Linked DNA regions of Homo sapiens. The protein of the gene in region 1 interacts with the protein of each later gene in a biochemical or structural test. Each region holds a gene or a part of one and is shown on either strand. Other genes may lie near its edges. The genes, in order: FGF14 and SCN8A.

Evidence for each region.
Region 2: the proteins of FGF14 (region 1) and SCN8A form a complex in vitro, tested with the Homo sapiens proteins (2 studies listed by BioGRID).

What each region holds. Positions count from the first base shown.
Region 1 is NC_000013.11:101,717,946-101,734,522, forward strand, and holds part of FGF14 (fibroblast growth factor 14), read right to left. Parts: intron 8,866-16,577; coding exon 8,667-8,865; intron 5,023-8,666; coding exon 4,886-5,022; 3' UTR 1-4,885. UniProt on the Homo sapiens protein: Probably involved in nervous system development and function.
Region 2 is NC_000012.12:51,752,656-51,769,232, forward strand, and holds part of SCN8A (sodium channel protein type 8 subunit alpha), read left to right. Parts: intron 1-9,847; coding exon 9,848-10,021; intron 10,022-13,015; coding exon 13,016-13,372; intron 13,373-16,209; coding exon 16,210-16,577. UniProt on the Homo sapiens protein: Pore-forming subunit of a voltage-gated sodium channel complex assuming opened or closed conformations in response to the voltage difference across membranes and through which sodium ions selectively pass along their electrochemical gradient.

The DNA.
Region 1 (16,577 bases):
TAAGAAGAGTGTCAAAAATGTCCTCGGCATTTGTTTTCTCAGAAAAAGAATTTAGATATTGGAGAAATTATCATACCATAAAAAGTTCAAAATGTGATTCATCTAAAATTTTGGACAAAGATGAAAATATAGTCAGCTCTGTTCTAGTGTTCATTTAGTTAGAAACCATAGTACCGGAACTGTATTATAGTAGAAGTTAATGGTACCTAAACTCTAAGGAATGCTTTTTCTTTGAAAACAGAAATATTTTTACTTATTTCTGTCCACTATGTTTGTGTGTATGTGTGTGTTTGTGTGTGTATGTGTGGTTTTGATGCCAGCAATGCAAACACCAATATATCTATTAAGAAGTGATTGAATTTAGATTGGAAAAAATAAAATAGTTACATGTAAAGACATAAACTCTTTCCTTCTTAAATGTGATTTTCAACTCTATGATAGAAACTCCCTCTAAAAAACAAGCAGGGCAAGAACAAACTTACTTGTAATGGGTGAGAGAAAATAAGCAAATCTCATTGGCTCATTCCTGTTTTTAGGAAGTTGCAGTGGGATTAATGTCAATTGGAAGGGATGCAGCAAGTTTAGAGAAGGTGTTGGCACTAACGCTGCTTGTTTGGCAAATCATCATCACTGAGGTATTCCACCCAGAGACTTTTTCAAAAAAGTCAACTAAAGTGCTAAGTCATAAGAGGAGAGCCATTATACCCGTTGTCTTTCTGGGCTCCTTGAGTTTATCTGGATTCCAACAGCACTTGGAAAGTACCGCCCTCCACTACCTCAAATGCAAACACAATCTCTGCCAGTAGACATTGGAATTAGACTTAGTGAAAACCAGGAAAAAAAAAAAAAACTAAAATATAACTCAGCCTTAGTTTGCAGACTCAACTGTCAACACTTTGAAACCCTACTCCATATTCAAGAGAGTCAACAGGCCCTATGTCACATTGTAGGCTAAGAAACCTCAGCTATGACTACTATTTCACTCAAAGTAAGACCATGTACATCCTGGATTTTGATATGCCTGCATTTTGGAAAAAAAAATTGAGGATTTAGCCCAGTCGCTTTCCCTTGATATAGCCTTGTTCTGAATTAAAATGGAAAAAATATTTCAATTATTTTCATCTTGTTCTCAACTGGATGTTAGTCAATGTGGTCTCTTTTTGAATATGTATCAAATATTAATGATCCATAATATTAGGGAGATAATTTTAAATGAAGTGATACGTGTCTAACTTACTTAAAGAATAAGTTTTTGGTTTTTGCTTTTAAAGACAACCAAATCTGATATTGTTCATCCTGATAAAAATAACAACTTTTAGTGCTTAAAGCATTAATTAAGCAAGTGGCTAGGTATGATAAAGAACTTCTGCTTGCTCCCCAAGAGGCAAACTATTAGAAGAACTGGAGCGGGAGTCCTTTGGACCCATCGTGGATCTCTTTAAGCCACTGCTACCCAAAAACATTCAGGACAAGCAAACATTTAGAGCAAGAATCTCCAAATTCTTCAGGATTTGTAATGAAATGATGTTCAGTTCCATTTTGCTCTTTACATAGGGTGGAGAATTGTCATGTCTTCTCTAATTTTTCCAAGTAAAGTGGTAGCAAAATGTTTTAAAAAGCAATCTTATATTAGAAAACAAAAATGTTGTCACTTGAAATACCAAAACAACATTTCTGAGCGTTGTTGAGGGACTGGCAAAGCAATCAGCTACTATAACAAATCAGTAGAAATAACCCTCCCACACCAGATATGCATGCAGAAGGAATGGAGTATTATAGAGACTTGATACAATGGACATATGCACATGGAGGTACAAAACACACAGTCTAAATACAAATGAATTCCATCAGATTTACTATACGGAACATCAGTAGTGACAGATTGCACTTCTTACTTAATAACAGCAAACTTAATTTCTGAGGGGAAAAAAATGGCGAAGTCTTATCCCAAACAAATAGCAAGAGAGGTATCATCAAAGAGCTAAAATTTTCTTTGGCATGGTAAAGGGGGAAATTGAGTTTACCAACTTATTTACATGACATTTCTCTATATTGGTGAGTAATGCAATGCCATTTTGTTACATAAAGTTGTTTGATGTTTTTTAATATGCCTTCATATAAATATTTTATTCAATATGTTGTATTTGTGAATTTAACAAATGATATTAAACACAAACTACAATGCAGACAGACAAACTCTTTGTATGCAAATTAGCAATACATACCAACAGTTCTTGATACACAGGTACCTACTACATGCAGCTCATCATTGCTGTCCTCTTCCCATGCTACAGGTGAGACCAGACACAAAGTAAATGACCTAACTCAATTACAAATAACAAGGACCCCTCTGCAATATGTCTAAACATATATTAGAAGAAAGTATTTGACATCCTTCATAGGGATAAATGCCCTTATAGACACCCCATATATAAAACACAACAGAGATACACATTTACATAAATCTCAGTCATTTACAAAAATAAATCTTGTCTTAATTTAAACCAATAAACAGACTTGCAGGGGAAAAAGAAACCAGCAAGTAGGGCTAATTATCAGTAACAAATAGATGGGGGTGTTTGCTCTGTGTGTGTGTGTGTGTGTGTGTGTGTGTGTGTGTATATGTGTGTGTTTGTGTGAAGTGAAGTGTTGCTGCTGTAAGTAGTGTCCATAAGCCCATTTGACTGTATTACAAGTTAGTTAATTACTCATATAGTTGGCCACATATTATGGGATCTATGTTTTCTGAAAATAATTGGTTAATGGAAGTTATCTAATATATTTTAACTGTTCCTGTTAAAAACAATAGGCTTCAAGATGACATAACACCAAATCAAAAATGACCAAAGGAATCATTTTGTTTGTTAGATTTGTAATTTAGCATCATTGGCAATAAATCTACTCAAACGTTCTGCTAACTTTTTATTTATTCAAGTAGAATCCAATATGAAAATGAAATAAGCATAAACAAACAGTTAAATTTCTACTAAACCTTTAATCAGCTAAGCAGGCCAGAATTTTTTAATGCTGGGCAAGGGCTGTCATGAAGAAGATTTATGAAAGCAGTGACAAAATAATTTCCCAATAAATACAGTGCAGATGGGGAAAATGATGACTGGGTCATCCTCCCACATAGAAAGAATAACAAGAGGCCAGTACATTGATCCCACATATAATTTTCAATAAATGAGGTTCAGTTTGGTCTCAATGAACTCTTCTGAGAAGAAAACATTGAATTTTATTAGGTGTACACAGAGTTAACAAATAAATTCCCAAACAGTTTAGTATGAAACATTTTGAACCCCTTTAGATCCAATATTGAACATTTTGCATGGAATCTTCATTGTGTAGTCAACTGTTCCTGGCCTTTCTTGGTAGTTGTCTTCCCTAAGCTCAAACAAACAGTGTTAAACTAAAAAGGAAATTAAGAATGCAAAATAAAAGAAAATAAATGGAATGGACCAAAATCCTCATGGATGAATGTGTTGGTTTGCCTTTATTTTCATCTAGGATAATTCAACAGACTGTATTCTGAGATCATGGCAAGGCACCTCTAACCCAGCCACTGGGCAACATGAGCCCCAGATGCTGAGCTAGAGGCATGTACTGGTGAAATACACAGTACCGGACTCAGCATGCTGAGCTAAAAAAAATATTTTTCCTAATATGTCCAGTTTAAAAACTTGTCATTAAACACCAAAAATATTAAAGTCTAATTAATTTATAACTAACGTTTGCATTGCTGCTGCAGGAAAGAACACAACAGCCGTCTTGCCCATGCTCTGCTGAGTATGAGGGGAACGCAGCCAGAAACGGGGATGGCGTTAAGTTTGGTTCATTAAAAACAGGACGGAGTATATCTGAAATGGATTTAGGTAGCGCAATTCTTGTAGGTTATAATTACTGATTTTCCTTTTTTTTTTTTTCCAAATAATGAGAATTAATAGATGAAAAATGAACCTTAATCAGGCCTACAAGGCCTACAGAAATCTTTGGACCCACTTTCTCAAAAACCAGTGGGTCTTGCTCGCTGGGCAAGGCAAATGTTACCATTACCAGTAAGCTTGTGATATGTATAAAACACACACACACAAAGAAACTAGAGGGGGATGTCAAACACATATCATAGAGAGCTTCCCTGGATTGTGTTTGAGCCATTTCCCACCCAGGCAATGCCGACCTTGGGAGCACAGTATCTGCTACTGGACAGAGCGTATATGTGTGTTTAATCGATAGTGTGAGCCAGAGACAACAATCTTTCTTAATCTTTCTTTATAGATGCAATTTGTAATAATAGGTTTAGAAGGCTTCCTGATTCCCTGATTGCTCTCCGACCTAAGCCAACTGCAACATTTAAGATTTAGAGGAACAAAATCCCTGCAAAAGGTCACAGACAGTGGAGCGAGCAGCCCTGTAAAAATGGGAAGAAGAGAAATCCGTAATAGCACAGGTTTACAGCGTCTAACTAGAAATTACTCAATATTATTTGTGTGCTACAAAATTGAACTTAAACACATAGATTTCGCTGAAACAGGACTCAAAAAGGATTATGGGTAGCTGTCAGCAGGCAAGGTATCGAGTGTACTTGTGAAGTATGTCATTCACATGAAGTGTCACAGTCACAGAAAAGATATTAAAAAGGCATTCCATATCTGGTAGGGCATTCCATGGTCTGAGTTTAGCTGGTTATCCAGGTGTCTTCTTGTTGTGGGGGGTGCAACAGGTTGAGATTTATCCACTTGCAACAGAGAAGTTCGGAGACAGCAAAGAATAAGCATTAGCTTACTTCCTGCTGCTCTTCAGCCACGGAGCAGGAATGTCTGGTGAGGATAAATCACTCAACTGTGCTCAGGACGAATAAGTCACAACACCTGTGAGGATCTGGCTATGTTGTCTTACTCTTGTTGACTGGTTTGCCTCCATTCATTATTGCAGACGCACTTGTGCTTTTACTTGGCGTCACCCCAGGCTTCGGGACCGTTTCCCCAACATCATGCAAAGATGGTTCTCGGTACATGGCAACTAGTGATGGGAAGAAAGGAGGAGGAAAAGCAAACATTGCTTGGTTAGGTGTGAGAATGGTCCATCCATACCTGCATAGACCACTGCAGTTTGCCCATTTCTGTTTTCCCTGAAGTAAAGCAATTCCATTGAGACAGAATTCCTGTTGTAAAGCAATCATTTCCAGCCCACAGAGGACATTACTCCCTTCACATTCTCTGGTCTGTATACCTAAAATATGTATATGAGTGTGCATGGATTTTTGTCTAGGACAGCAGGTTTAAATGGGAGCTATGGCCTCTTTGTGGGTCCATGATGTAAAACACACACACACACACACACTATAGGAGAATGACAGGCATTTAACTTAATTCTCAAAAAAAGAAAACTCAGACATCCCTTCCACTGCACATTAATATCAACACATGAACTTCTCATTCACTTCAATCAATCTTTGTGAGCTGCGGTATTTACATCCTAGAACATTAAATTACTTTCTTTCATGTGGTTCAAAAGCAACATAGTCATACTAGTGTCAACTTCAAAGCTACACAAAATAATAACAAATAACTCTCTTCCCATAAGCCAGAGCCTTCAGGAGATTATCATTTCAATGTTCATTTCCTACAATCATGGAAAAAGACCCTTGGGCAGCAGAAGGCAACTCATTTTCTGCTATGTTATTAAAAATCTAATAATTGACATGATACAGGGGCAGAAAACAGAATGGCAAGACAGCAACTGAAACTACCTGAATAAACTCTGAGGATTTATCTAAATAGTGTCTGGTGGCATAATCATAGTAGTTCACGTGGCTTTTTAGAAAATGATTTCTGGAAGTCCTGAGAAAGGACATATAAGAGTGACTGATGGTTGGGGAAAACTAGGGATTAAAGTCATCTGCCATCAGAAATACAAGTGCATTAGAGCTGCCCAAACTGCTTTTTAGGTTTTTGAAAGTTTAAGGTATTTTACGAAGAGCCCTTAGATTTAGTTAAGATGAACTACCATATGCATTCCCTATGTTCAAGGGGGTAGAATGTGGCCTTTAGTATCAATGCATCACGTGAGTTTTCATCAGCACACATACTTGAAAGTGCAAATGTACATAAGGTTTCTATTAAATTACTTGCTAAGGTAGCAAAAGGAACTAATGCGTATCCTGAAAGCACATTCCAATCCCTCACTCCTATTACTAATTAAATTAGCAGACAAAAGCATGAAGCATTGACCTTGATTTTCTATGTAGTGAAGTTGTATCGTCCAACAATGATAGACTGGATTAAGCAAATGTGGCACATATACACCATGGAATACTATGCAGCCATAAAAAATGATGAGTTCATGGACATGGATGAAGCTGGAAACCATCATTCTCAGCAAACTATCTCAAGGACAAAAAACCAAACACCACATGTTCTCACTCATAGGTGGGAACTGAACAATGAGAACACTTGGACACAGGAAGGGGAACATCACACACACGGGCCTGTTGTGGGGTGGGGGGATGGGGGAGGGATAGCATTAGGAGATATACCTAATGTAAATGACAAGTTACTGGGTGCAGCACACCAACATGGCACATGTATACATATGTCACAAACCTGCACGTTGTGCACATGTACCCTAGAACTTAAAGTATAATAATAAAATATATATATATATATATATATATATATATATATAAAACAAAGATATGAATGCCCTAGAGTACCAATAATTAACCAGGTACTTAATTTGTCAAACATTTCCAATAACATTATTTATATTCGGTATGGGTTTTGAAAGTTTGAAATTAATTTTCCTCTATCAAGTAAACAATGTGATAATCTCTGTCGTTATAGTACCTACCCCCTTAACTGTTTTTAGAGTACTTCTGCTAATTTTTTGAAAACATAAAAAGTATTATTTCTCTCTTTCTCATATATATATATGTATATATACACACAAAACACTCATATACACATAACAAATACATGAGTGAAATACCAAGTATCATTCTATACCACATCATTGTTGTCTCAGATATTTTCTATGAGATATGCAAAATAACTGGTTCCCAAATTTTACCTCGGTTAAATGACATAACAGCCCTTTTGGGTTTTGTTACATTTATGCAGCTAAAGGGTAAGGTTCTAAAAATCTAGTCAATTCTTAACTATTTACAAAACATAAAATGAGTGAAAAGAGATAAAGCACGGTGGCAAATAAACAATGGTCTTATTAGAGCTTCTGTGGGCTTATTTTTTAATTTTTTATTTGCATTTAAATATAGGTGAGTCCAATGTTATCAAAATTTATTTAAAACAATGAAAGTGTATCATGGATGTGTTTTTTTTGGGAGGAACAGGGAAATCCTCTAACTTCTTTCTACTCTAATCATCCTTATGATCCACCATATACTGAGAATAATTCACTCATATTTCAGACTCTGGAATAATCTGTCTTTTCCTGTATAGGCCCTGGTAGCTAACTGTTTGGGTTTCAATAAATTGTTCTACAGAAAAATATAATTAAGAGTGACACTAAGTCAACATCATTGAAATTACAGAAGTAGTATTAGCCAACAAGAGCGATTTTCTGAATTTAGGCAAATTGAAAATTATACACTCACAGATGATGAAGAATTGACTGTTCAAATTTTTAAATTATTTTATTTCAATATAGAGAATATGCATTATGAAAACAATATGCATTTTCTCGTGATGGCTAAGCCTTTCCTGTAGGAATAAAACACAAAAAGAAAATTGAGCTGTCCAAGCTAGCTTAAAATATTTACTGAGTTATTGTAGATCTGATCTTCTGCAAAAGAGTAAACAAAAGAACTTGAATAGAAACACATGTGAATATCCTAAAATCAAATATTTTTGTAATTCTCAAATGTTACATAGATAAAAGTAAATGACACTTTTGGCAGAATCATTAATGAGAGAGGTGCAGATGTTGTTGATTAATTAAAAAAACTTTGTAGCCTGCTCTTTGGGTATCTGATTGGAGTAAATGTGAAATTTCCATTCATCCGGCATGGATGACTGGATATACCCCTTCCTGCACACAAATGAATGTGGATAAATTATTTTAGTAAAAGAAGTAATGCTACAAATGTATACAGTGAAGAATTACACAATTTGAAAGCAGATGTGTAATATCAGCAAGTTCTTTAAGAGTCAAGCTATTATCTCTTATTTTTCTGTAATTATAATAATCCACAAGTAGGTAATTACTTTCACCTAGATAATATCAAAATGGAAAATACTTTTGATTCCACGCTCAAAACTTATTTTTTCTAATATACTTATTATCTTTTTCTAATATACTTATCATCGCAGATTTGTATCATTACAGATTTAAAATTGTTTTAACTTAATTAATTTAAATTATCTAAGGGTTAGAGTGGTTGTAGCAGTGAGGATTTGAGCCTTTGGAGGTGGCAGAGAAGAAATTTTTCCTGGTACACATACATACACAAATATAGTAAAGTGTATAAGGGGCACAAATTCTAAATCAATAACTTAAGTAGGCACCTGTGCAACCATCACCTAGATCAAAATAAATGACATTTCCAGCACTTTGTGAAGGTTTCTTAGAGCCATGGTAGACCTATCAATTTGAAAAATAAAATATGTAATAAGTCTATGTAATAATAATGCATGCATAATACTCACCTTCCAATGGCTTGGGTAGAAAATGAGCTGCTGGTTTGGTTTTCTTTACTCTGTTCCCTTTCATAGCTTGCCCTTCCTTATTTAATCCCAAAAACCAGGCTCTACCAGATTCCTGTTGTCTGTACAACATGGATGAGTAGATTACATAATAATTTTCAAAAACAGATTCTTTAAACTTGCATTCAGGGGTAAAAAGTTCCTGTGGAGAGAAAATGAAACAAAAGTTAGAGGAAGGAACTTGATCTTCACTGTACATTCTACTCATTCTCTAGAAAGTTTCCCAGCATGGTGAAAGAGTGCTTTGGCATGGAGGACCGGATATACCCCTTCCTGCGCACAGTAATTGTCTATACATTTTTAAAATATACAATAAATTGAGAAGAACCTACTATTATTGAAAATATATAGAAGCAAAAGTATATCATAAGAAAACAATACATGAGCAAACTAAAGATTTAACTTAAACAGAAGACAATTCAACCAGAGTATAATCAGAAAGGGAGCATTAAAGTAGCATCAGATATTCACAATAAAGTGAACCAAATAAAATACACATTTCAGATATTTTATAATCCATTTTACATGTTTCCATAGGAACAGTGATATAATACTCTACAGTTGCCAGTTGCTCCTTGGATCACTGAAATCACAGGGTGATACATTTTACTTACAAAGGAACAAACTGAAACCTCAAACTAAAACTTAGACAATCAGCTGGCTTACTTGCCAGCCACTAGAGCTATTGTATAACCAGATGAGGTTAGGTGTCATGTTAGCTGGTCATAGTGACAGTAGCTGAAAATAATTCAATGGGGCTCCAAAGGTTTGAGTCCCGTTGGAACTCTTGAAGATAAACATCAAAAGCTGCTCCAACTGAAAAACCACACAGCATTTTTGGAAAGCATACAGTTTGTTAAATACTATTATGCTCAATGCCATGGTCTGCATTAATTGATGAGCAGCACAAAGCTTACTACTTTACAATTATTATTAATGTCAGAAATATTCACAGATGATTTTTATATACTTCTTACTTTGGGATGAATAATAATGAATATAATCCCATGCCAAATAAATAAAAAATTAATAAGGGTACAATCTACATATGCATTTTTGATAGCCCTCTATTAAAAATAAATTTGAAGTTCAACCTGTCTGGTTATAGACCATGAAAGACACCTAGCTAGTTTTAAATAGGTCCAACACTGTGCTATTCTATATGTATATAAAATATAGATGGAAAATAGATCCTTACTGTCCTTGATCTTTTTGAAAATACCACTGGACTAAAAAATATACACAAAGTTTTCATTTTTCTTTAATAGATTTTATTATTGCAGAAAATAATAATTTTTGGTTTTCTTCTAAAAATGTTGTATACCTGTTCTGAAAAATATTCCTTAGGGGCTAAAAACTAAAACATTAAGGGCTTGACTTTATGCTAACTGTAATTAGGAATGTGACCTAATGTCATGTAGAAATTTCCTTTCAATATTCCCCATAAAAGTGTGAATTATCAAATGCTGTCTCATGCAGGAGACAATTTATTCAGTGTGCTGAATAACTTTCATTCACTGAGAGCTAATAGTTTTCCAAGGGGAACAGCCTTTGTTAGTGGCAGATGCTTTTCAAGACAAAGATGACAGTTACAGTGATCAATTTGATGAAATCACAATAGCCAAATGACAGGTTTAGCCCCCTCCTGGAGCAACTTATGTAGATCTTTATTTCTTCTTGATGATGCTACCTCAGATTAGAATAAGATCCCATCCAAATAAATGTTCTGGCTTTCTACTGAGTTCTGCATCTCCATATATCCTCCAATTAGTTTTCTCACTAATAAATGAGAGTCCACTGAGTCAATGTCCAGGCCATGCGCCCGAAAAAAAAGATTGATAAAACAGTACATGTTCATGCATTTATTGTGAGTAAAACAAAATGGAATGCTATAAATCTGGCTTCTCCCCAAGAGACTAATAAATATATTGGTTGAAACTATACTTTCTCAAACAAAAGGATTAGACTTTGGCATTTCACTTGTCTTTTTACTGAGACAGGGCAGGGCACCTAAGCATATTGCTTACCAGTTAAAAACCTATCTCAAAATCAGCTATGAGTGACATGCTGAGAGCTGACTTAGTGGGTCACTTAGTGGAAGTCAGGGGAATCTGGCTCTGCCTCCTGGGCTTCGGGTGTCTCTGCCCAGAACCTGGCTCACTGATGCTCATCCTGTTGCTACAAACACCAGAAACGTAGGTCCACAGGATTCTCTTCTGATCGTCACTGCCATAATGTCCAAAACATGAATGGTGCTTGCAACACCATCAGCAACTTAGGGATGTATTGTCTCCATTATGAATTCACTGTGTTGAATATGGAAGAGAAGAAGATGCTTGATGTAGAGGAAGTAATTTATTCTCGGTGGATACCTTAAGGATTCTGACACTATATCTTTTCAGATGAAATGTTCACATCATAGGACTCCAAAGAAGTCAATTCCACAGCACCTTTCTGTGAGCTGTGCCCGTGACTTCACAGATAGGTGATTCTTTCTGTAGAACTATTGCCTTCAGTTGCTTGTGATAGTGGAGACTGGTATATTTTCAGCCTTCTTATTTGTGGCTAAATAATTAATGCACACACAAATGCACATGTTACATTCAAAGATGTTATTGTCTAATACATTTTCTCAAAACTTTTTGAGAACTTAATCTGTTCCTCCAATATTGAAGTCTCAAATAATCCCAGCATTTCCTATAGAACCGATAGAACCAATGGAAGTTGAGGTTAGTTGCTATTTGATGTCATAAGTGATATACTTTCAACACGTAAATGGGAAGCAATGGAGCAGATAAACATCACCTGTGGAGGCAGACAGTAGGATTCAACCCTGACCCCACTAGCTGTGTGTTCTTGGGGAAATTACTCAATCTCTCTGGGCTTCAGTTTCCTCATCTCTAAAATGAGGACAAAAATCATAGGGCAATAAGGTAGTTGGGATGATTGAGTGAATAAATACGTATTACACATTTAGAAGAGAACTTGGTATACAGTGAGCACTCAATAATTATTCTTTAAAAGTTTCTCATTATTTGTAGTAAAAAATATATCCTGATCAGTTATTTCAATTCTGTGAAAATCTCACCAAAAGTCAGCTACATAATTAGTCAATGAAAACCATTTTACACAAAATATTGGGTTCAGCATGAAATATACCAAGATAAATAATAGTCATTCATTTCACTGAAAAATGACAGAACAATATAATATTTGTTATGAGTGACTTACCTATAAAATACTAGAGTGATTATAGGGAGAATAAATGGTATTGTGAAAGGCAAGAGGTGGGAAATGGCCTGGTACATTTGGAGAACTGTAAATAGTTCATCACTGAGATACACGCTTTGTGGGACAGAAGTGGAGAATGTTGTAGATGGGAAGATAGGTTTGAGAAACATAATAAAGGGTCTTGAAAACTCTAATAAACAAATTAGATGTCTTATAAGTGAGAGGAAGACATGTTGAATTCCTGAATATGCAAGGGAATAATAATAGGGCCTGATTCGTATGTTATAAATACAAATCTGTTGTCAGTGTGGAGGATGGTTTCGAAAAGTTAAGAACATGTCGTACTGATGTTTTCAACCCTAATCTCTCACAAAATGAACCTGAAAGTTGTTTGTAGCACATGAGTATATGTGTGTTCACGTTAATAGTTAGTATTAATATTACAAATAGAGAACCAGAACACACAAAGTAAGGGGAGAAATAATATCAGGATTATGACACACTGACTTCTGAACTTTCTGGTAGCCAGGACAAAAAGAGAAAGACTATAATGTTACAAAAATTATTCAAGAAAGAAAATATTTTCCTTTTTGAAAATGAAAAGTTTCTTGGCATGAATTTTTAAAAGGTATTTCCTTATAAGGGACCTAAAAAACTGACATTGACCAACATAAACAAAAATGCTCTTGAGAGTAATTGCACAGTCATACTTTGTGCTTCAATCCTGCAGTATGCTTTAGGAAAACAGATTGCATTGAAAATGTCCAATAGGTAGAACTACTTAAAGTCCAGTAGGTGGAAATAATTGTAATTGATGAGATCTCCAGGGATAATGTGCACAGCACGGGCCACAAACTCAAATGCCTCTAATGACCAGGTAGATACAGGAGTGAGGAAAGCTGGCATGATCATGGCACCGTAATGAGGATAAATGGCCTCTGACTCAGGCTCTGTGGTGAGGAGATGAAGACAGTGGTAGAAGCAATGATTTTTTTAAAAAAGCAGCCGTCCCTCACATGGTTCTCCTGTGAAAATAAAAACCTTAGATCTTTAGAAGATCTGATTTTTCAAAGGAAGTAAGAAATGTAAGTTTCTACAGATAATCTCCTTTTAACATTGGCAACTATTTCTTAGTTTTTGTTTTTCAACCTTGAGTGGGTCAAGGGGCCACAGGGAAGCCTGTGAGCCTTCAGTATGAGACCTCCAATGTACAGCAGCAAGAACCAAAGAAAGAGGAGCCCTACTTTGCTTCTCAAGGCAGTCCTAGTCTAATTGATAGTTGCTATACAGTTGGATAATACAATTATTGTGCCAGTGAAACACTCTCTAAAACTGGCAGTGATAATATGAAAATGCTTATTTAAATTTAGGCTTAAATATAAACTCTTTGAATCTGCCAAAACGAGATCGATAAGGAGTTTGATGTATCTTTTTCTCACCTTGCCTCCTTGACTATGTTTAGAACCATCACCCCCACCACAACAAAATCAACAACAGATGAGTTCCAGCAGAAGCTTGAATATTAATTTGCACCACTGCCAAACTAAATCATCAAGTCATAGGATAGAAAAATGCAATAATTAAACAGAAATGTTATATCTTTTTTATGTTGTGGTTGTTTTTGAAATGAAAGCACCATCTGTGGTGTACTTATTATCTTAACAGTAGCAGCAGAATTCCTCTTCTGAGGGAAATGCCTTTGTTTAGGAAAATACCGTGATGGGCCATTTGCTTGTACAAAGAGAGACTTCTGGTTGGAAGGAGCTCTCCTTCCATAACTCATCAGGAATGAATAACTCAGATAATCTGGCAAAACCATAACCTCAGAATTGAAAGTGACCTTGAGAATCTAATCCAGTGGTCCAGCAAACTGACTCTCAGGCCAAACACAATTTTCACCTGTTTTTGTAAATAAGGTTTCATTGGAAAACAGGCACTTTCCTTTGTTTATATATTGTCTGTGTCTGCATTTACACTACAAATTTCAGAGCTGCGTGGTCGAGAAAGATCTTTATGGCTCACAAAACCTAAAATGTTTACTATATGGTCCTTTGCCAAAAGTTTGCCAATCCTGATCTAAGGTAAAATTTGAGGACTTTCCAACCTAAGTAATTGAGGGAAGAGTTATTAACCCAGTAGCAAATTCCTAAGGAGCTAAGCATTCCCAAGTTAAACTTGGATTGCACATATTTTCACATATGCAAACATATACAACTTGAAGGAGGAGCTTCACCAGTGTTTCATCCTTGGAAAAGCCTTTATGTTCTGTTACGAGCCCAGGCTTCCACTAGGAATTAGCCCACCAACTCCACTTAGTTACTATGTCACCTTGGTGTTATCTAAGACTAAATGAAAATTATGTTTTTGTTAATGTCTTCAAGTTTGCCCACCATCACCATTTAAGGGAAAACTATAAAAGGGGCATTCTGAACACAATCATAACATTTTTTAGAATACTAGGCAATTCCAAAATAACTTAAAAAGAGGAAATAGAGAAACGATATTAGACACAAGTAGCAAATAGCACATAATAAATACATGATAAATAATAGCTACTAATATATTACTAACCTCTATTTTCCAGAGTCATCCACGAATTCAGTCCCCTCCCAGTAACAGCTCAATAATGACCCTCATCCTGGACTCCTTAGGAGTATCTCTCCTCAGAGGAGGCTTGAACTTAAAGGAGGAGGAGGTCTCCAAGTCCAAGTTCTTACTTTGAGTATAATATTAAACAACAAAGGGTTCTTTCAAATATCAAATAAGATAAGAGAGGTGAAAAATAATTTATGGACTAGAAATTAAGTTGTAATCTGTAGTTATATTTACAACGAGAAATTGAGTTTGAAAGTGCAACTCAAATGTTGTTATCATGAAGAAGGCTGTTATTTAATTATTCTTAATAGATTTCAACTTAATTACACATACCTTTAGATGGGAATTCCCATATTCAGATCCACTTAATCTGAATTCTCAATTTTTTTTCTTCCCTTTTCTACATTTTGGAGATTTGATCTACTAGAGTTTATCTGAGGTCAGCAGAGATTTATCCCAATCTCTTTCATCTTTTACAGTTTTAAAATCAATTGTATCCTTTAATGCTACTATTCTGACACTAACCACTTCTTTAAAACAAAAAGGCAGAGTACTCTTAAGATTACTTATAAAGAAAAGAATATCGTGAACTTTTAGAAAGATTTTACAGTCCTGAAGTTGAAACAAAATATTTGTAGTTAACACTCAAAAGCAGAAAATTAAGTTGACTAATGTACTTTATTTATATAAAGTTGTATGTAGTCAAAAATTTTTAATATTGGGCTGTGACTAATGCCCACAGGAGAAAAAAAATTAGTTAATTGGTTGTGTGTGTACCTCAAATAAAAGCATAATTATGTACGAGTTTAAGAGACAACTTTTGGCAGTGCACGGTGGTCACTCCTGTAATCCCAGCACTTTGGGAGGCCAAGGCAGGCGATCATGAGGTCAAAAGATGGAGACCATCCTGGCCAACATGGTGAAACCCCATCTCTAATAAAAATACCAAAATTAGCTGGGCGTAGTGGCACATGCCTGTAGTCCCAGCTACTCGGGAGGCTGAGGCAGGAGACTCACTTGAACCTGGGAGGCAGAGGTTGCAGTGAGCGGAGATTGTGCCACTGCACTCCAGCCTGGCGACAGAACAAGACTCCATCAAAAAAAAAAAAAAAAAAAAAGAGAGAGAGGAGAGAGAGACAACTTTTATCCTGATTACAGGACCCAGGAAATTTAAGTATATTTCTACCAACAAAGGAGTCTCGACAGCAACTTATATTTATAGGGCCAAATTCTGTTACTTAAGTAGTTTCCCGGGAAACAAAATGGAAAATTAAAGCATTTTTTGGCAGTAAAAATATTTCTCAACATTTAGAGATTAACACATCATTAGATACAATAATTTATTTATTAAATATTATATGTTACTTTGATTCATTATATTTATTACATGTTTTATAACATTTAATAACTAAATATCAAATAATTTGATTTGAATTTTCACTTATTCAATATAAATATGTATTATATATTTTAAAATATGTATTTTATATGTGTGCATAATTTTTAAATATACATAAGGAGATGTCTGTGTGTGTGTGTGCATGTGTGTGTGTGTGCACGTACATTTAAAATGTGGTATTCAGGGACCAGTAGCAACTTCATCACCTGGAAGCTTGTTAGAAATGCAGAATCCCAGGCCCACCTCAGACCTACAGAATCAGGATTTGCATTTTAACGAGGTCCCAGGTGACTGTATGCACATTAAAATTGGGACATATTGGCATATATTCTCATTACTACATAGAACAAATCAATTAATGATCACATTTTAAGAGCTGTCAATTAAATTGACATTAGTCATAAGCTTGCTACCATTTCTTAACATTAGTACAAAATTTATAAAAGCAAGAAAATAGAAACAAAAATCTGTGGTATTTACAATACGTCTATAAGTAAGATATTTTAAGATTATAAATAAAAATGTGTCCCAACTTGTTCTACAATGTAAAATCTTTCTCTCTGGAATATAGACATGTATAAACTCCTAAAATAATAATCCTTGTAAGATGAACAGATGGCACCAGTGCT
Region 2 (16,577 bases), on another chromosome or scaffold:
GCAGTCCAGTGGAATGCCCGGAGTCTTGAAATGGGACACTCCCACAGACTGTCCAAGAAGTCTGCTGACTGGCTCTGAAAGGTGCCTGTCAGTGGGCACATGCTGTGACTGGCTGACACAGTACCTTGGCCATCAAGCAGAATTTTAACCCTGTCAACAATATCATTTAGATATAAGCTTGATTTTAGTAGCCAAGAGTTAAGTAACAAGAAATATGTCTTGATAATTTTTATTGTTGATGTTGGTGGTTCTGTTTTCCCTGTAGAGTTTTGTTTTTCTCAAAATCTTTACTTTTCCTTACTTTTTACAGAACCAGTCTTTGATTTTCAAGGGATTTTGAGAGGCTTTTTCACCTATCCCCACTAGAACTCCAGTCAGACCAGGCTAGCAAATAATGTTATTTTTCCTTTCATGAAAATTTAGAGATTTAGGATGACATCTAAATTAGAATTGTAAGTATGCAGAAGACTTTGCTCAGAACCATCAGTAAAAAAAGAGGAAATAAGAGAAGGTCAACAGCTAATATTCAGGAACTCCATGAGACAAGCCAACCCAGAACCAAGTTCTAGAATAAGAAAGCTCTTAGGTGGCAAGGGTTTTCAAACGGCAAGTAAATGTACAATTAGCAGTGGGGAGGGAGCTTAGTATATAGTCCAGCATACTTTGTACTAGATGTGAGGGTAAAAGGAAAGAAATCAAGAATGGTGCCTCGATGTGGGGGTTTAATAACTGAGGGAAAAGTGGAATGACTGCAAAGGAACTGGCTTGACGTATAAAATCAAGAGTTCTGTTTTGGACATATTAAGTGTCTATTCACTGAGTGGAGATGCCAAATAAGGAAGTTGGGTACGTGCTGGACCTCATGAGTGTTTTCTGGACAATACCAGAAACTCAAAGATATACTTTGTTGCCAATCAACACGAGCGCTGAGATTGGCAGAAAGAACACAGAATTGGAAGTCAGAAGATTTGGGTTTTCATTCCTATTAGATATCGTATAACCTTAAATAAGTCATTGATTTCTGTCCAGAAATGTTTCACATCTGTAAAGTTAAGATAATACCATGCCATCACTGGTTGGGAAGATAAAATGAGAACCTATATGGAAGTCTTTGGGATAGCTAAAAGTATCTTATAAATCTTAGGAACTGTGTTAGTATAATTCAATAGGAGAATTTTCAAAGATTTGGAGAATTGGGTAGAGGCTTTGACTGAACCTGAGAATAAGAGGATGGAAAAAAAATGAGACTGACTTGTGAAATAAAGTATGACCTTGTCCTGTGGTTGGAATGTGAGGCTTTTCCTATAGCCCTAATTGTGAGTTAAGTTGTCTTTGTCTGTAGACATACAGAAAGATGTTTTTAAAGAAAGATGAGAACAGTCTTCTGCAAATTGAAGATCCCTGCCTCTTCTACCCTCCCCAAAAGAGAAAATAATAGTAGGAAGAACCTTAGAGATAATTCAATCCAATCCACATGTTTTATAGAGGAAATTGAAGCCCAGGGAAGCTGTGTGACTTATACAGCCTCTATGTTATGTAGTAGATAAATGTAATGATTCTTTTCCTGCCTTTTTTGCAACTAACTGAATACAATAGTAAGTTTATGAGGTGACTTTTTAAACATTCTGAATCTTACAGGAAAGTTTCAAGTACAGTACAAAAAACTTCTTTTTTTTTTTTTTTTACAATAAAAGCCTTATCACATAGCCTTATCACCCCCAAATGCTTATAGTGTGTATTTTTTATACACAAGTACATTCTCCTACATAACCATAGTATAACTGTCAAAACCAGGAAATTAACATTGATACATTACAATGTTGTGAAGTAAAGTATGACCTTGTCCTGTGGTTGGAATGTGAGGCTTTTCCTATAGCCCTGATTGTGAGTTAAGTTAAGGGTCTAATTCTCAGGCCCTATTCAAGTTTTGCCAGTGATCCCAGTGGTATCCTCTGTAACAAAAGGATGCAGTTTTAGGATTACCCCATTACATGTAGCTATCATATCTCTCTAATTTTCTTCAGCCTGGAGGAGTTCCTCAGTCTTTCCTTGACTTTCATGTCTTGACATTTTGAAGACTACAGGTCATTTGTTATGTAGAATTCCCTCAATGTGGGCTTGTCTGATGCTTCCTTATGATTAGATGCAGGTTCTGCATTTTGGTAGGAATATCAGATAAGTGAGACTATCTTCTTCACGTTGTATCTACCAGTTGGCATGTAGCTTCCATTTGTCCCACTACTGGTGACGTTCATTTAATCACTTGATTAAGGAGGTGTCTGCCAGGCTTTTCATCTGTGAAGTTACGCTTTTTCCATTTACAGTAAGTCCCCACTTAACATCCTCTATAGGTTCTAGATTTTTGGAAACTGTGACTTTAAGCTAAATGATATACTGTATAACAAAACCAGTTTTACCATAGGCCAGTTGATATAAACAAGAGTTAAGTTCCTATGGCATATAGTACATCATGTGGCTTAAAGTTGCTGTTTTCAAGAACCTATTGAGGACATTAAGTGAGGACTTACTGTATACTTAATAGGTATTTGTGAGGAAGACCATTTGAAACGATTTAAATTTCCTGTTCATTCAGATTTTGATTTCTTCCTTTATTTATATCAGTATGGATTAATGGTTTTCTATTTTATCTGAGTTACAATCCATTTGATGTTTAGACTTCCTCTGATGTGGCCAGTGGAAATTCCTTCAAGCTGGCTTCTGATCCCTTTCACATGTCTTCTTCACTTCCTGGCTTTCTGGTACCACAAGGTATTCCAGGATACTTTCGTGTTTTTCCAGCCCCAGGGCTGGAATCAGCCATTTCTCAAGAAGCCCTGAGTCTTTTAGTGGAAAAATGGCATTTAGAAGTAGAGATCTAGGCTGAGTATCAGCTGAGGCAGGAGGATCGCTTAAAGTTTGAGACCAGCCTTAGCAACACAATGAGACCCCATCTCTAAAACAAAATAGAAAACTAAAAAAAAAGGAAGAGGTGGAGATCTGAGATCTAGGTATGCATATTGCTATGGGAGCAGCATGCAGCCCCTCTTAGGACATGATGAGCTATTTATATTGAGCTAGCCGTGGATATTGCAAACCATGAGTTGATCCTGTCACTTCCAATTCTAATCCAACACTTCAAGATTCTTTCTAGTTTTCTCCCTTTCTGTATTTGTAACTCCTGCAACAATAAGAAACCTCGTTGCCACTATCTTTGGTATACTTATTTGATCAAAAAGCCACTGTTACCTTTTATAGCATGGGTACCCTCCTCACCCTGTATAGGCTCTGGGTGCCCCCCACCCCTTCAGCACCCGAGCCGTGTCCTCCATGTGGACACCTGCTCACACTCCTCAGCTTGGAACCCACACCAGTCCAACTCACACATGGTTTGCCCCACCCTGCTTAGACCCCGATGCCTCACAGTAGGCCTTCGCCTGCATGGACATCCTTCTCACCCCACACCAGACTCTCCCCTGACATAGAAGCTCTGTTTATCCTGCACAGACTCTTAACACCCCTCACCAGGCCACCCCTCGTCACCCTGCTCATGCTGCCATCTGTCTGTGTGAACACTCCTGGAAGTTCTCACCTGGCCCATTGACTTTATCCCAAACTAGGCGACATCCTCCTCACCCTGATGAGCTCTCACACCCTCACTGTCCACCTCCCTGTTTGGACACTTTCCTCACCCCACTCGGGATCTGACACCCCACATCAGGCCTTCCCCTACATGAGTCCCTCATCAGCTCACCTGGCTCTGGCACCCCTTGTGAGTCTTCCCCTGCAGGGAGTCCCTCCTCAGCCCACTCCGGGATCTTCTCCTGGAGATGCTATCTTTACCTTACTTAAGCTCTGACTCTCTCTGCTAAGTCCCCCACCCCCTCAAGTGTGGACGTCCTCCCACCACACTTGGGCCTCAACACCTATGTGGGGTAGCCACGCCTCATACCACTTCCAACTGCCCATCCTAGACTGTTGCCCAAAGCGGATGCCTCTCCTTGGCCCACAGGCTCAGACAGCCCATGCCAGCCTGCTGCCCTGCATGGACCTCCTCGCTCCCCTCCATGTCTGACTCTCCTTGCTGGGCCGTGCCCTTCCTGGGGTTCCAGCACTGGGCAGCAGCCTCCCTCTACCGGCATGCCCACCTACAGCCTTCAGGACTGAGTGGTTCAGGAGGAAGGGGATGGAAAGAAGAGCTAGGGTTTAATCTGACATATAAGTTTAAGTTCTCAGATTCTAAGCAAAAGCAAAAAAGCAGAAAGTTATTTTCCTCCTTCACCAAACATAAATGAATGTTATCATTTCTTAATTATAGGTTACCTAGATTTTCAGCTAAAAAGAATTCTTTTCAGATTTTTTCTTTCATCTGTGCTTCTATAGCCCCATATGGATACTTCTTTTTAAATACTTGTCACATGATTTTTAGTTATTGTTCTGTCCCCTCCTGGTTGGGTAACCAACCACCTTAATTTGCAGAGGCCTGAGGAAGCCCTTGCAGTTTTAAAACTGGGACAGTCCTTGTCAACAGGTACGAGTTGATCACCCTAACTGGAGATGCAGGATGCAGGACTTTCGGTGTGAAAAGTGGCAAACCAGGATGAGTTACTTACATTCTGGCGACTGAGTTCGTAAGGAACCATTATTTTTCATGGTCACATTTTTTTTTTCATGTCTCCATTGCAGTACACATAGAACTTTTAATCAAATTGAACTTGATTAACTTTGGGCGAGGATCTACTGCAGAACAGGAGCTGACAAGCCCTTTTCTGAGCACAAAGAGAGGAGCATGCCAGACGCTCGTCACTTTCAAATAAGGCTGAATTTTTTCTGCAAATGCAATGAGGGCTGAAGGAGGTGTGTGACTTCTCCCCAGACCCCATAGTGACGCCAAAGTGAAATATACCCCAATCTTAGGACTATATAGGCCTTACTTGTTGACCTGGCATTACAAGTTATCAGGCATATGACCACAGGCTAGTCCAAACTAGACTAGGCATGGCTCATGCCTGTCATCCCAGCTCTTTGGGAGGCCGAGGTGAGAGGATTACTTGAGCCTAGAATTTCAAAGCTGCAGTGAGCTATGATCATGCCACTACATTCCAGCCTGGGTGACAGAGCAAGACCCTATCTCAAAAAACAAAACACAACAAAACCCAAACTAGAAAGATATGATGACTGTGAATTCAGAGTATTTTATAGAGAATAGAGAACCATTGTTTTATAGAATATTCTGAGGAGATCAGGACTCCTTTATACTCTTAAATAAAAGTGCTATGTCTATTGATATTTATCATGTTTGAAATTAAAACTGAGAAAATTTCTAAACATTCATTTTGTAATTAAAGAATTACAATAATATAGCTAGGTGAGTCCCAGCTACTTGGGAGGCTGAGGCAGGAGCATGGCTTGAGGCCAGGAATTTGATGCCGAAGTGCTCCAGGAACACGGCTGTGAATAGCCATTGCTTTCTAGCCTGGCTAGAACATAGCGAGACCCCATCTCTACAAAAATAAAAAAATTAACCAGACATGCAGCTCATCCCTATAATCCCAGCTACTCAGGATGCTGAGATGGGAGGATCACTTGAGCTCAAGAATTCAAGACTATCCTGGACAACATAGCAACACCCTATCTGTAAAATAAATATCACAATAATACACCTATCACACATGAACATAAATAACATATTGGTGTGGGGAAACTATATTTTTTAAGAAAAACTGGAAGAATGGCATTGTTCGACATTTTGCAAGTCTCTTTAATGTCTGGTTTGTTTGTTTGTTTGTTTGTTTTGTTTTTTGAGGCAGAGTCTCACTCTGTCGCCCAGGCTGGAGTGCAGTGGCACAATCTCGGCTCACTGCAACCTCCGTCTCCCAGGTTCAAGCGATTCTTCTGCCTCAGCCTCCAGAATAGCTGGGATTATAGGTGCCCGCCACCATGCCTGGCTAATTTTTGTATTTTTAGTAGAGATGGAGTTTCACCATGTTGGCCAGGCTGGTCTTGAACTCCTGACCTCAAGTGATCCACCCACCTGGGCATTCCAAAGTGCTGGGATTATAGGCGTGAGCCACCGTGCCTGGCCTCATGTCTGGTTTAATAGAAGGTAGTTAGATTCTCTTTTTCTGTTTCTACATTCAGTCTGTTGTGATATGTTATTTTAGCTAAAGTATAGGAAGAAAAGCTTGCCTCACACAGATATGTACAGTAGTCCTCTCTTATCCAAGGGGGATACATTCCAAGGCCCCCAGTGGATGCCTGAAACCTCAGATAGTACCAAGCCATACACACACACATACACACACATATACACATACATGTATGTATGTATATGTGTGTGTGTGTGTGTATATATATATATACGTGTGTGTATATGTACAGCCACGTACCACATAACAACATTTTGGTCAATGACAGACTGCATGTCTGACAGTGATACCATAAGATTATAATGGAACATATATAAAAACTTGTTATATGCCATTTGATATTGGCCTTGCAGGTCAAGTAAGAGAAATGATTGATGTTAAGTAAAGGTGCTGGGACATTTGGTTTTCCATATTAAAAAATATATATATATAAATGAAAATATATATATAAGGCCTAGGTTTGTGTAAGTACACTCTTTAATGTTTACACAATGACTAAATTGCCAACAACACATTATCCCTATCATTAAGCAATGCATGACCATACTGGGTTTTGTGAATCTGATAACCAAGATGGCTGCTAAGTGGCTAAAGGGCAAGTAGTTTATACAGCATGGATACACTGGACAAAGGGATGATTCACATCCTGGGAGGATAGAGCAGGACAGCTCAAGAGTTCATCATGCTACTCAGAACAGTATGCAATTTAAAACTTATGAATTGTTTTTCTAGAATTTTTTATTTAATATTTTTGGACTGTAGTTGATGGTAGCTAACTGCAACTGCAGAAAGCAAAACCACAGATGGGGGGTACTTCTGAAGTTGGAAAAGAGCGGACCATGTGCTTCCTGAGAGGGCCTTAGGGACTCTAAGGATCCTCAACTACCCTTTGAGAACTGCTGCATAAGAACATAAATTCTAAAGTGAATATTTGATGACATTCAGGAGAACAACACTGTCTAAGTAATGTTACCACAACAGAGTACCATAGACTGGGTAATTTATAACAGACAGAAATTTATTTGGCTGACATTTCTAGAGACTGAAAAGTACAAGGGCATGGTGCCAGTACCTGGTGAAGACCTTTGTGCTACATCATCCCATGGTAGAAGGCCAAAGGGCAGAAGAAGCTAACAGTGAGAGAGCAAGAGAGGGCCAAACTTGCTTTTATCACAAAGCCCACTATTGAGATAACCAGCCCACTCCTGCAATAACATCAGTCCACTCATGATGGCAGAGTCCTCACATGACCTAATCACCTCTTATCAGACCTTGCTGCCCAACAGTGTTGCATTGGGGATTAAGTTTTAATACATGAACTTTGGGGGACACATTCAAACCATAGCAGACACTTATATATAATTGCTGATACACTGCATGTAATTCTTCCCTTTCTCCTCTTTGAGAAGCATATCACAGTGCAAACAAGAGCATCATAGGATAACCTTAAATCTGCTCTTCTCAATTTTTAAAAAAGCAATTCCTTCACACAGCTAATAGTTATAGGTGTATTTTGACACACACCCAACTGATGGCAACATACCATGTGTTGAAGCAACATGGTGGCTGACCTCTGTCACAGACAATTTCTAATGCCTGGGGCCATTCATCCTGGTGATAGGCAACACCACATAACTATGTCATTGTTGATTTCCCTTAGGAACCAGAGTTCCCACAGTATAGATATTCCATGGTCAATCAGCCAGTGCTTCTTCATGAGCACTTCCTGTGTGTTTACCAGGAACCAGTGGGATAACAAATCAAGTCTCTACTTAGTGTGTGTTAGGCAGGCTAGCATTTCTATGTGGAGAAACCTCCGATGGGTTTACACTAAGGGTGAAATGTATGTCAGGATTTGATGAGCTGTCTGTACTTTCCCTGAACTCACTCAGAGGGATGTTCCATCTATAGATGCTTAACTTGTATTATGAACTTTGATTTTACTTAACTGGATCTCTTTGTGGAATTTTTTTTTCAATTTTAGAATATTGCATCTTCAATCTAGAAACATGAGGAACTACAGAAAAGCATATGAACACCGAAAACCTATAGGCCACTTATCCATTTTGATGTATTTTAGTCATCATTCTGTTTTTTTATTGCTGTTTATTAATTCAGTATATTTCCAAACAGCATCTATAATCTAAGTATTTTTTACTATTTTTAATTTTGTTCTCAGACTATATCTTCAGTTTTCCTTAAACTGTTTCATGTGGAAACTTGGTAAACAGGTAGTTACAAGTACTAATATATTATGACAGTTTTAAATCTATTGTAAAAATAAGTCCTCTCCTCTAAAAACATAATATTCAATAAGAGTCTGTTGTTATATGGTTAGCCTAGAATGAAGGTATTGGTTTTGTCAAAACCGGCATTCATGGGATTTGACTTTCATCCTGCATATCACCTCCTAATGCCTGCAGGATATGGAAGTCATCGGGAAGTGCAGGCACTCTGTCAGCAGAAAAATGGGAGATGGGTAACATAGGGAAGATGTCATTTTTACACACAATAAGCTACAAATCTAAAACATTTATTATGTCATTGATTATCCTATTGAAAAAAATTAAAAGGAAGCACCGAAGTCTCCAACAATAGGAAAATTCTTTGAGGATGTATTTACCCAATAGAATTTTATTCACTATTTATTTATTTATTTATTTATTATTATTTATTTATTATTATTTATTTATTTGATAGGGCTTGCTGTGTCGCCTGTGCTGGAGTGCAGTGGCATGATCCACTGCCCTCCAGGTTGGCTCACTGCAACCTCTGCCTCCCGGGCTCAAGTGATTCTCTCACCTCAGCCTCCTGGTCCCTGGTACCATAGGCGCCCACCACCACGCCCAACTAATTTTTGTATTTTTTGTAGAGATGGGTTTTCACCATGTTGTCCAGGCTGGTCTCAAACTCCTGGACTCAAGTGATCTGCCTGCCTCGACCACCAGAAGTTTTGGGATTACAGGAGTGAGCCATCATCCCCAGCCGCCAGTAGAATTTTATACAGGCAGTAAGAGTGAGAGTTGGGAGAACCGTGTAGCAACATGGATAGACTTAATGATAAGTGAAAAATCAGACCCAAGATATTATGTATTCTATGATTTTCCAACTCTGTCAAAATACCTGTGTATTTGAAAAAAAAAACAGAAAGAAAATACATGAAAATGATAGTTGTATGCAAGGTGGTGAGATTATAGATATTATTTCCTATATTTTGCACATTTTGGCAATATTGTATGCTTTTACACCTTGTGGCAAATGTCTGGGTTTGGTAAGATATAATGTCAAATTAGCATTAATACTTTATTTTTCTAATCATAACGCGAGTGATTTTTTTAAGCAAACATCACAAGTATTATATACATTCAAAATGACTGCTGACCCTTTGAAAGGAGTTGCCTGGTGTAGTATTGCCATTGCTTAGCATATTTTCTCAACTGCACTCTTGAAGAGTTTAAATTGAGTGGTTCTGGCAACAAAGATGGGAACTTTGGGGCTGGGGACTTCATTCAAGAGGAGAATAAGATTTTCCTGCATCAGGTGGGGTGCTCATGAGACATCCAGGTATTGATATCTTCAGATGCAGAATTTAACTAAGGTTAACTCTTGAGGTTTCTTGGACATGTTGTTTTCAAAAATAATGATAAAGGCATTCTCTTTCTACTATTTATTTTTCTTACCCCCTGCATCCCCCTATTTAGGTTTTCACTGGAATTTTCACAGCGGAAATGTTCCTGAAGCTCATAGCCATGGATCCCTACTATTATTTCCAAGAAGGTTGGAACATTTTTGACGGATTTATTGTCTCCCTCAGTTTAATGGAACTGAGTCTAGCAGACGTGGAGGGGCTTTCAGTGCTGCGATCTTTCCGATTGGTATTCCATATTTCTCCAATTTCTTTTAACATTTCCTATCTTGCAGCTACTAGAAAGAGTTCTGCATAAATTAATTTGATGATTTAAAAAATATATTAGCTGTATTTTACTCCCAATTCCAGTTATTTGGCTTAGCTACTAAAATACTAAAAACTTTCCTAAAATACCTGATATGGAAGTTAGTTGTTAAAAATCAATAAGCAAACAGAAATCAATTTTAAGAAGCTCTTTAGAAAATGCTGCTTAATCTAAGAGATGTCTAAGATGATAAGTGAAAAATAAGACCCAAGACAATAGATGAAGAAAATGAACTCCCCCAAGGCCCAGTGTGAGGTCTAATTTGGGTTTGCTAGTGAATCTATTTTTTTAAATCTGAACATCTCCTTGAAATGGCAAGAATTTCTCCTTGTTCAAAGATGACTTTCTTCATTTCTTCTGTCATGGTAGCCCTTCCAAAAAATGAGAATAAAATAAGGTTTTTAAATACAGATGGTTCCCAACTTATGATGGCTCAACTTATAATTTTTCCGCTTTACATTCTGCAAAAAAGCAGTGCACGTTCAGTAGAAACCATACTTTGAGTACCCATACAACCGTCCTGTTTTTCACTTTCAGTATAGTATTCAATAAATTACATGAGATATTCAATACTTTATTATAAAATGGGCTTTGTGTTAGATGATTTTGGCCAACTGTAGGCGAATGTAAGTGTTCAGAACATGTTTAAGGTAGGCTAGGCTAAGATGTGATGTTCAGTAGGTTACGTATATTAAATGCATTTTTACTTACAGCAGTTTCAACTTAAAATGGGTTTATTGGGACATAACCCCATCATAAGTCAAGGAGCATCTGTATTATATTGAAATTAGTTGTTGAACATTGGCTTTATTTTCTCTATCATTAGCTAAAAAGGAGTTTGTATTAATGTATTTGAAGAAGTTAGTGTTTAAGTTACTCTTAATGACTTAAAATGACTCTGAAAGAATAGTTAATGGTATCTTCAAAACAGCTGTCCGTAAACATAAGCGTAAGTGATATCTTGATTAACTCCTCGAGAAACTGAGTTATCCTGGGGGTATCCCACTCAGACAAAGGTCACTACTGCTTCCCTGGCATTAGAATTGGCTTGGGTTTTTCACTCCCTATTGGGAAGATAAGCACTTGGCAACTGAAAAGGTTTAAAGTTTCTTCATTGAGATATTCAGCAGTTCTAAGAAAGAACTGGAAAAAGTGAAACTATTTGTAAAACAGAGATTTCACTCAGTCAAAGTCACAAATAACTGCCAAATTTTTGAAACCTCTGTTTACTACTCTTTGGTTAGGATCCAGTCCACAGTGGACTTTTTTGAGAATAGTTATTACCTAGGTGACAAAAGAAAGGATTGAGAGTAGCCTTAGAACTTATATTCTTAATAAATTAAAAAGCCACTCTGTTGAAAACAATATGAGTGGCCCAGATGTCTGCATATAGGGTAACACCTGGTAAATATTGAACTCTCTGATAAGATAACTTTTCAATTAAAAAAAAGTTAAAATTGTGCTGTTGCCTTCTACCAAAATTCCTATTACATTCTATGTTAGTTATTTGTTAGCATATGACATCTAATGATGATCTCATAATTATAATTTTATTGGCCACACTGCCATAGCCTTTATGCGTTATAATTCTCAGGCTGGGCCAGGCACAGTGGCTTACACCTGTAATCCCAGCACTTCAGGAGGCCAAGGCGGGCGCATCACTTGAGGTCAGGAATTTGAGACCAGCTTGGCCAACATAGTGAAACCCCATCTCTACTAAAAATACAAAAATTAGCCGGGCATGGTGGTGCACGCCTGTAATCCCAGCTACCTGGGAGGCTGAGGCAGGAGAATCACTTGAACCCAGGAGGCGGAGGTTGTAGTGAGCCGAGATCACGTTGCTGCACACCAGCCTGGGCGGCAGAGTGAGACTCTGTCTCAAAAATAAATAAATAAATAAATAAAAAATAATTAACACTCTGTTAGCCAAGATCTTGTGATTATTTATTACAGAATATAGATATTTCATGATTGACAGGTACTAAAAGTTCTGTCCTCTGAATAACAGTATAGGCTCTTTTCTTTTTTTTTTTTTTCTTAGACATAGTCTCATTCTGCTGTCCAGGTTGAAGTGCAGTGGTGTGATCTCGGCTCACCTCAACCTCCACCTCCCAGATTCAAGTGATTGTCATGCCTCAGCCTCCCAAGTAGCTGGGATTACAGGCCTGCACCACCACACTTGGCTAATTTTTGTATTTTTTATTAGAGACGGCATTTCACCATGTTGGCCAGGCTGGTCTCGAACTCCTGGCCTCAAGTCATCTGCCTACCTCAGCCTCCCAAATGCTAGGATTACAGGCATGAGCCACTGCACCTGGCCAGTATAGGCTCTTTTCATAAGATGACTGATGTATGTGGAACTGCCCCTGTTTGAGAGTTGTGCTTTTCCTCCAAGTTATTCCAAGCATATCACAACGGTTTTTTTTTTAATCAGCCATTGATTATTTATTGGCAAGCAAAATAGGTATTTAGAATTTTTTAATGTTTGCTTTTTTAAGGAGATGGATTTTTTTTTAAACTGTCCTTCCCATACTAGTCTTTTGGTTTCCTACAAATCACATTTTATTTCACTTGTCCTGTGAGAAGTCAAGGGAAAATTAGTAGGAAAGGGATATGTTCATATGTGGGTTTTCAAAAAGCAGACTGACTCAGATCTAAAGTAAGGGACTAAGGCAGTATTCCTGGCTTCTAGTTACAATTTTTTCAGCTACTCTGAAATTAATCAGTTTTCCCTTATTTATGTCTCAGTTTCTCCCCATTTAGTCTGAGACACTGTTAGACAGTCCTGGGAATTTTCCAAGGGTGCTCAATATATTTAATCTGATCTTCCTAATTTTATGTTTTTATTTTAGCCATGTGGTGAGAAAATTGATTGAGTATCATTTATTTTTTTGTTTGGGTTTTTTTTTTCCTTAGCTCCGAGTCTTCAAATTGGCCAAATCCTGGCCCACCCTGAACATGCTAATCAAGATTATTGGAAATTCAGTGGGTGCCCTGGGCAACCTGACACTGGTGCTGGCCATTATTGTCTTCATCTTTGCCGTGGTGGGGATGCAACTCTTTGGAAAAAGCTACAAAGAGTGTGTCTGCAAGATCAACCAGGACTGTGAACTCCCTCGCTGGCATATGCATGACTTTTTCCATTCCTTCCTCATTGTCTTTCGAGTGTTGTGCGGGGAGTGGATTGAGACCATGTGGGACTGCATGGAAGTGGCAGGCCAGGCCATGTGCCTCATTGTCTTTATGATGGTCATGGTGATTGGCAACTTGGTGGTTAGTACTAATTTGTAGATATTTTTGTTCTACACCCTGAATATTCTACCCCTGGCCCAGAAGCCCAAGTCCTTCTACTGCTTAGTCCTTCTACTACCCGTCATGTTTGTTGATTTTTATTCTTTCTTGGCCCAGAAACCCTAAGGTACAAATGAAGGAGAGGAGAGAGATACTTACAGAGTGCCTACTTAGTCATGACCCCCACAACTTGTCAACCCTTTTCCTAGAGTTAGGAAAGCAAACTCAGCAAAATTAAGTGACTTTCCCAAATAAATATAGGGCTTGTATTTGAACCTAGACTTTAAAGTCTGTGCCCGTTCGCCTACAGAAGCCTTCCTTTTTCTTAACGACAATTTCTCATCTGTGGTGCTATTGACATCTTGGGCTGGATAATTCTTTGTTGTGGGCTGTCGTGTGCATTGTAGGGTTTAGCAGCGTCCCTCCTGGCCTCTACCCACTAGATGCCAGTAGCATCCTGAGAGCTGTGACAACCAAAAATGTCTGCAGACATTGCCAGATGTCCCTGGGGGGCAAAATTGCCCTCCATTGAGAGCCACTGCTCTAAACCATCTTAGAGTTTTATTTAATTTATATAAATGACAAATCACTTTATTGCTTTACTTTGATCTGTCCACCTGCTCTCTTCTACCTCTGTCTTTAGAAGAGTCACCAACAGATCTTAACACCTTGCTTCTTAAAGTGTGATCTGAGGACTAGCAGCAACAAGATCACTGGAGAGTGTGTTAGAAATGCAGAATTCTAGGCCCCAAATCAGAACTACTGAATCAGAATCTGCATTTTTAACAAGATCCTTGTGTGACTCAAAAGTACACTAAAGTTTGAGAAAGGACTATCTTACAGATCAGGCCCCTAATCCCACCTGCAAGTGTAGGGCAAAGAGGACTGGAAGAAGACAAGCTTATCTGTCCCTTAACATGCTCATCCACATTAGTTCTCTTCCTTTTTCTGCCACAGAGAAGCATGACAGTAAAAGGCTCCTACTCACCAGCCTCTGAACCAGCTACAACTATTCTGTTCTTCCATTTGACCTACAAAAAAAATAGCTACTGTAATGTTTAATTCTTCCTATTCTCCATTCCCAGCCACCTTTCCCTCAGTCCTAATCCCTCTAGTCTTCTCACTACTTCAGTGACTATAACAATGGCTTCCCGGTATGTAGCATGATCAACATTTTCAAGCCCTGACTTTGCCACCCTTTCTTCACTCTCCTGTTCTTATTTGTCTCAAAGACATCTCCCCATGGCTGTCTCCAGATACCTGAGCACTTGATAAATATCAGCTGTTACCACTACCCCCTGATGACACTTTTCAGGTTCCCCTTTGCTCAGTAGTCCTTCTGCCCATCTAGTTTCTAGGAACCTATAACTTTGGAGTATTTTCTGTCTCTTTTCTCTCCACTCCCAGCAAATATCTGATGTGTCTTAAATGCATCTTTCTTCATAGTATTTCTGTGGATATCTTTCTTCATAGTATCTAAGATCTGCCCCTTCCTTTGCATTTCTATAATTCATTCAGTACTTTATAAAAATGTGGTCTCAAGACCACCTGCATCATAATTACACAAGTTTCACTCACAAAAAAAGGCCAAGTCCCAGGCTGTATACCAAATCTACTGAATCCAAATATCTTTAGAGTAGGCTAAGGAAATATTTTTAACAAACATCCACACCCCTCACTCCCTGAGATTCTAATGCATGCTAAGATTTGGGATTTCTGTAGCCTAATCCAGACCCTTATCAATTCATGCATGTAACAGCCTCCTAACTTCTGCCCTTCCCCTCTGTATGTAGTTAGTCTGAATGACTCTTTCAAATCTCTGTCATCATCTGTGACTCCTTTACTCAAGAACCAGTAGTGGATCTAATTAAATAAAATTCAGATCCCTCAGCCTGGCCTTCAAAGCCCTCTCCAACTCACCCGCATTTTACCAACCATATTCCTTTTTAACTCTACAAATGGTGCAGATAATCCGAACACTTATAGTTCATTTATTGTTTCCACCCTCCCACTCTGCACATGACTGTTATCTCCTCCTAAAATGTATGCCTTACTCTTCTTCCCAAGTATGACAAAGTAAGGACCAAGTGTAAATCAAGAAGTGAGCACCTCTCCCACTCCTAAAAAGTAAGTCTTAATAAAAATAAATTAATTAACCTTAATGTTCAATGTAGTAAAATAGGAGATTAAAACAAAAATAAATAAAGCTTGTATCTGATGGCTTGACATTTGGCTATGCAAAAAAATATAAAAGTCACCATCACTGTCTTGCTAAAGCGATTTTATTTTTATAAATGTTAGGAAAACAAAATTTGTTCTTAAAATATGATGACATGAAGTGTATTTCAGTTCTACCTTCTTGGTTTTTTGTATGAAAGGATGGCACTTCAAGCCTCATTTTTTTTTCTGACGTGGGTCCTCTCAAACTCTGCTCATGAATATGTGGCATCTGTACACTTTGTGACCCTCCCCAGTAATGTATATTCACCTTTTTATTTTGGGGAAATGTCCTTCCAAAATGGATACAGCCTTTGTTTTTTCTGATTATAAGAGAAGTAATATATTTTCGGGTACATATATATGTATGTAAAACTATAAAAGACCCAAGAAAAGAGGTGCTAAACTCCTTGTATTACAACCAAAACCAAACACATTCCCACCTGGTAACATGAGCATTAAAATACTACGTGGGCCAAACACAACACAACAGAGCCTCTTTGAGTCTGTCACGTGAAGTCCATTGGCTTCCAGTTTGCAACCCTGAGTTCGATGGATAACTTTTCTGCATTTGTTCCTTTTTTCCAATGCTACTGGCATAGGTGCTGAACCTGTTTCTGGCCTTGCTCCTGAGCTCCTTCAGTGCAGACAACCTGGCTGCCACAGATGACGATGGGGAAATGAACAACCTCCAGATCTCAGTGATCCGTATCAAGAAGGGTGTGGCCTGGACCAAACTAAAGGTGCACGCCTTCATGCAGGCCCACTTTAAGCAGCGTGAGGCTGATGAGGTGAAGCCTCTGGATGAGTTGTATGAAAAGAAGGCCAACTGTATCGCCAATCACACCGGTGCAGACATCCACCGGAATGGTGACTTCCAGAAGAATGGCAATGGCACAACCAGCGGCATTGGCAGCAGCGTGGAGAAGTACATCATTGATGAGGACCACATGTCCTTCATCAACAACCC